Regions from separate parts of the Homo sapiens genome. Here region 2 is linked to region 1. Evidence: fine-mapped expression QTL. A gene starts in region 1. The other region holds a variant in brackets. All regions are shown on one strand. Distances are from middle to middle.

Evidence for each region. PIP is the estimated chance that this variant, and not a neighbour inherited with it, causes the effect. A credible set is the group of variants that fine-mapping cannot tell apart.
Region 2: its variant is the best candidate, but not a certain one, in a credible set for the expression of ANKRD55 in whole blood (TOPMed, PIP 0.63).

The regions. Positions count from the first base shown.
Region 1 is chr5:56,231,789-56,234,711 of GRCh38, reverse strand. It overlaps ANKRD55 (ankyrin repeat domain 55), which reads left to right and starts at 1,382. Exons shown (of 12, transcript NM_024669.3): 1 at 1,382-1,471; 2 at 1,766-1,856. The coding sequence starts at 1,799.
Region 2 is chr5:56,152,808-56,155,730 of GRCh38, reverse strand. All of the region lies in intron 6 of ANKRD55 (ankyrin repeat domain 55), which reads left to right. Among named protein-coding and RNA genes, the nearest start is that of ANKRD55, 79 kb to the left of the region's middle. The variant G/A (reference allele first, on the strand shown) is at 1,501.

The DNA.
Region 1 (2,923 bases):
AAGGACTACAGAAGTTCTTGTCAGAAAGTTCTTACCCCATGAAGGATGGTTAATTGGGTTCCAATGTTACAATGTCAGTGAGCAGGTTGTCAGCTTGAGCAAGGAAAGTTCTTCAGTGAAGTTTCACTCATGCACTGAAATGTACTGAGCACCTCCTTTGTGCCCCTCTCTGTGCTAGGCTGTAAGGACATGGAGTGGACAAAGCAGACAAAGAAAGAGTAGACAAAGACCCTGCCCTTATGAAATGTACCCTCTTGTGGAGAAATATTTTAATTTGGGTTTCCGTAAAAGCAGACCCTGAGACAATGATTCCAATGCAAGTAACTTATTGAGAAGTGCAGGAAATATCAGTAGGAACGTGGGAAAGTAATACAGGGAGGGAACAGCAGCCCATAAAAAGAACGTTATTAGACCTATTCTCACAGGTGGCAGTGGAGTTTAACCCTGAAGGAGTTTAATCCTGAAAGGGAAATGGCAAACGGAGTAAAACACCATGCCTCAGAATCATCCTATCCAAGGGCAAAGGAAGCTGGTGTTTATTATTAGATTCAACAAGCATCTACTATATGGCTATTTGACTTATCCAAAAATCTGGTTGTGCCTAGAATATAGAACTTTGTTTGAATTTAGTATATCATATTTTTATTACAAATACAAGATAATAGATACTGGTTATTAACAAGCCAAAAATACAGAGATTGATACAGAACAAGTTAGAAATCTCCTACTCTAATCACAGTGGCCTGAGGGAACCAATATTAGCAGTTTAGTACGTATCTTTCTACATCTTTTTCAGTGTTCGTCTGAATATATAAAAATAATGTATACAGTGAGTGGTTTCCGGTTTTATTAAAACACGAACAAATGAAATATATAACTTGTTTATTTCATTTAACAATAGATTAGTGACATGTCACCAGATAAATACACAGATTTATTTATGTCAGATTTTTAAATCTAGAGTACGAATTTACTACCATTTACTTAGCTGCTCCCTGAATGAGGTACATTCGGGTGATTTTTCAGGTTTTACTACATGTAATGCTACAATAAACACCCTTGTGACAGCAGACTGTTTTAATTTTATCACCACAGACACTCGAGCCTTGAAATGTCACCTTTCAAATGACGCCTTTCCCCATCCTCCCTGTCAATTGGAGAACGGAGCTGAAAGGGGAGTGAAGAAGACTGCCAACATGGATAATTACTCCACACAGCACATGGCCAGCAGCCTCCTGCTACAATATTTACATCCTATTCCATTGAGATGGCACTCTCTGCTCACATGACCCAAATGCAGTTCTCACTCCGCCAAAAGCACAGCCGAATGCGAACTGCATTGGCAGCTTTGCACATGCTCTGTCTGGCCCTGTGAATCCTCACTCACCCATTCAGATTTCTGTTGGTGTAAAGCGACATTCCAGCTGCTGAAGCTCCGTGATCTGCTGTGTTTTTCCAGCCCAGATCCAAGGCAGGTGGCCCATACAATTTTACTATCTTTTTGGAGTTTGAGTAATTGTGTTTATTGATTTGGGGGTGGAGGGTGTATTATGCCCATGTACAGCTGATGAATGAGGCCATAGAGTAACTCTTTTCCTAGCAGGTATTTACAGGAATAGCATTTACCTATTTTCATCACCTTGCCTTGACAACAACCTGCAGCTCTGATGCACATTTAATCCTGAAACAGAGGTCTTGGCAAACGATGCTGCCTCTGACTGTCATGTTGACAGTAAGGTTTGAGATGGTGTTTTCTCCTCTCTAGAGACCTGGATGCTTTTTGCCATTCTGATGGTAAATGATGAGACAGGCTACCATGGATTTCAGCACCCCTTCTGTGTTTGATCAGCAAAGAGGTAAAATGCTGCTTTAACACATTCTTTGGTTGTTAGCATCCTTAGTCTCATGGTATGGATTTACAGTTGTAAGGAGAGAAAGAGAAGTGTGTGTGTGTGTGTGTGTGTGTTCATGTGCGTGGGTGTGCATGAGTATTTGCTATGTAGGATGTGGAAAGAGGATTTCACCTAGAAAACAAACCTGTTCAAAATGTTCACTTCTAGTTTGATAAGCATCTGAAACAGAAAAATAAGCTTATGATCTGTTGTATAAGCTTATGATCTTGTTGAAGTATTCCTACCTTCAAATTTTAAAAACTGGATTTCAAGCACACCAACTATTTCAGATAGTGTCATCTTTATTCTGTTTTTTCCAAATCTTTTTTAAAAATTAGGGTAAGCAATGTAAGAACACATCACATTTTTTTTGTCATTCGATTAGCCCAGTATCTCATTGCTGTATCTTCGTAAGCATTTTTTTATTCCTTTCAGGAATAGATGTTGCCTGTATTTATGTCGGGTTGATATGTTATCTCATCCAAGGTTGTGTAATGACATATCCCTATGCTATTATTTGCAATGCCAGGGTATATCTTCCTTACTTATAATTTCTGGAGTGGAGGTAATTTTCCACATCAAAATGTTGCTGTGAGATCAACTTATCCTTATAATATCACATATTTGGCCATGTGGTCTATGTGTATACATTTTGCATATGCAATGTGTTTATATACATCTTCGTGTAATACTTATGTGTAATAGTAAATCTTTTTTTAGTATAAACATGAAATTTCCATTTTATAAACATAATAAATATTTTTTAGAATCTTTTCTTAAATATCTATTATTTAAACCACTTTCTACAGTCTCTGAATATTCTTCAAGATCCTAAGTTCCTTTGGTGATTTTATCTGTTTTGGCTACAACATGAAATGGTGGTTTGAAAAAGCCTCATTAAGAAAATGTACTGCTTCATTCTTTTTTCCCTTTTCCTGCTCTAGGCCATAGCATGTTTATTACCCCTCAAGCTACATCTGGCTTTGTGGGTGAATTATTTTAGCCCAGGGGGTTTCTCCAAAAATAAATTT
Region 2 (2,923 bases), 79 kb after region 1:
AGGACTACAGGCAGACACCACCATGCCAGGCTAATTTTTCCATTTTTAGTAGAGATGGCACTCATATAACTCTGAGGCACTCATAATTTTGTTTTTGACTGAGCTCCTGTACTAGGTCAACAGACCAGGCCAAATATCAAAATGGAGTCCCTCATACTTAAATTCCAAGTTACCAAACTGAGACCGAGTTGTTATCTGACCTTCTGAGAAATCAGGAGAGAGATAACACCCAAATTTCCCAAACAGGCTAGTTTTACTTAGCATAATAATGAAATTTCCTCTGCTTTTAATCCTGACAACAAAAAGTAACCTAAAGTAACCTGATGTTAAGCAATCAGTTTTTTCTCTGTTGTTCTGTTTCCCTGTTCTCATCTTTCATCTTTCAAGGAAAGTAACTTTGAAATAACCAATCTGCTTTTTGTTCTTTGCTTCTGCTTTTTTCAGTCCTTCTCTGTCTACAAAACCAACCTCCTCTGCTGGGCTCGTTGGAAAACTTTTTTTTTTTTTTTTAAGACAGTCTCACTCTGTCACTCAGACTGGAGTGCAGTGACACGATCACAGCCCACTGCAGCCTACTGCCTCAGCCTCCAGAGTAGATGGGACCACAGAAACCCTGCACCACAGGCATGCACAACCATACCCAGCTCATTTTTTGTTTTTGGTAGAGACAGGGGTCTTCCTATGTTGCCCAGACTGGTCTAGAACTCCTGGATTCAAGTGATCCTCCCGCCTCAGCCTCCCAAAGTGCTGGGATTATAGGCGTGCACCACCATGCCTGGCCAGAACATTTTGGAATGAAGCCCAGTTCTAGAATTGCAAATGAAGCCAGTTAAGATCTTTGAGGCCCGGCTCCACGGCTCACGCCTGTAATCCCAGCACTTTGGGAGACTGAGGTGGGTGAATCACTTGAGGCCAGGAGTTCAAGACCAGCCTGGCCAACATGGCCAAACCCCGTCTCTACTAAAAATATGAAAATTAGCCGGCTGTAGTGGCTCATGCCTGTAGCCCCAGCTACTCCAGAGGCTGAGGCAGGCGGTGGAATTGCTTGAACTTGGGAGATGGAGGTTGCAGTGATCTGAGATGGCGTGACTGCACTCCAGCCTAGGCAACAGAGCAAGACTCTGTCTCAAAAAAAAAAAAAAAAAACTTTAAAACTAAATCTTCTGCTGTAATTCCGTTTTTGCCAATTATTTATTTTATTTAGTTATTGGTCATTGCTAGTGAGAGCCAATCACGATAAATTTATAACAGCAAAAGCTCTTGCCATTGAGAAATAAATACAATTCTGAAATGGAAAGAACACAGCCCAGGCTTTCTTTTTCATTCATTACTTTGGTGGAGTTCCTGTATTTGGCTGCTCAATGTTTTGAACAAGTAATCTTCTCTCGTCTGTCTTTTTTCAACAAGCTCCAAGCATGATGTAGCCTCCATTGTATGAGGGGTAGCGGGGAGTAACAGTTAAATTCATTGTTTAAAAAAAGGTACCACTCTATGTGTTCT[G/A]CAACTTTTTTTTTTTTTTTTTTTTTTTTTGAGACAGAGTCTTACTCTGTTGCCCAGGCTGGAGTGCAGTGGTGCGATCTTGGCTCACTGCAAGCTCCACCTCCTGGGTTCTGCCTCAGCCTCCGAAGTAGCTGGGACTACAGGCACCCGTCACCACGCCCAGCTAATTTTTTTTGTATTTTTAGTAGAGACGGGGTTTCACTGTGTTAGCCAGGGTGGTCTCAATCTCCTGACCTCGTGACCCACCCGCCTCAGCCTCCCAAAGTGCTGGGATTACAGGTGTGAGCCACCACACCCGGCCTAACTTAGTTTTTTCAACTCAAGCATTTGTCTTAGAATTTTTGATACATATAGATCTGGCTCATTCCTTTTTTGTTGTTGTTGTTTTGTTTTTTTCGAGATGGAGTCTTGCCCTGTCCAGGCCGGAGTACAATGGTGCGATCTCGGCTCACTGCAACCTCCACCTCCCGGGTTCACACCATTCTCCTGCCTCAGCCTCCCGAGTAGCTGGGATTACAGGCACCCACCACCACGCCCAGCTAATTTTTGTATATTAGTAGAGACAGGGTTTCACCATGTTGGCCAGGCTGGTCTCGAACTCCTGACCTCGTGATCCACCTGCCTCGGCCTCCCAAAGTGCTGGGATTACAGGCGTGAGCCACGGCACCCAGCCTGTGGCTCATTCCTTTTAATGGCTTCATCATGTTACATAATATCAAAATACCCCCATTTATTTTGCCATTCCCCTATGAATGGATATTTAGGTTGTCTCAATTTTTCACCATCATAAACACCAGTCTAAAGAGTGTTTCTTGTACAAGCCTCTTTGCATACTCTGTGCAAGCATTTCTCTTAAAAGAATAATTGCTGGGTAGTAGAGAGTGTATGTTTTTATTTTTAATACACACTGCCTAATTATTCCCCCAAAATAGCTGCGTGTCGTTGTTGTTGTTGTTGTTGTTGTTGTTTTTAGTGGAAGTACTGGTTTTTTCCCAGTTGTTGCTGGATTTTCTTGTTATTTGCATTTTCCCTGATTAATGAGATGAACATCATTTCATAGACATAATGGTCTTTATTATATCTTCTTTTGTGACTTGCCTGTTTACATTCTTTGTCGATTGATCCATTGGGTTGTCATTTTCTTATTGATCTATAGGAGTTTAGTTTATATGCTGAATATTAATGCTTTGCTGTTGGGTTGTAAATACTTTTTCGTAGGCTGTTGGCTATTTTGAAATAGTTCATAGTACCTTTTCTTATTCAGAAATGTAAAAATCTGATATAATTAAAATGATCATTCTTGTCTGTTTCTGCTTTTTCTTTTGATGTCTTTTTAAAGAAGGCCTTCTCTACCCCAAGAACTGGATTATGTTATGTTAAATTATGTTTTTGTTTGTTACCAGATTTTTTTTAATATATGGTT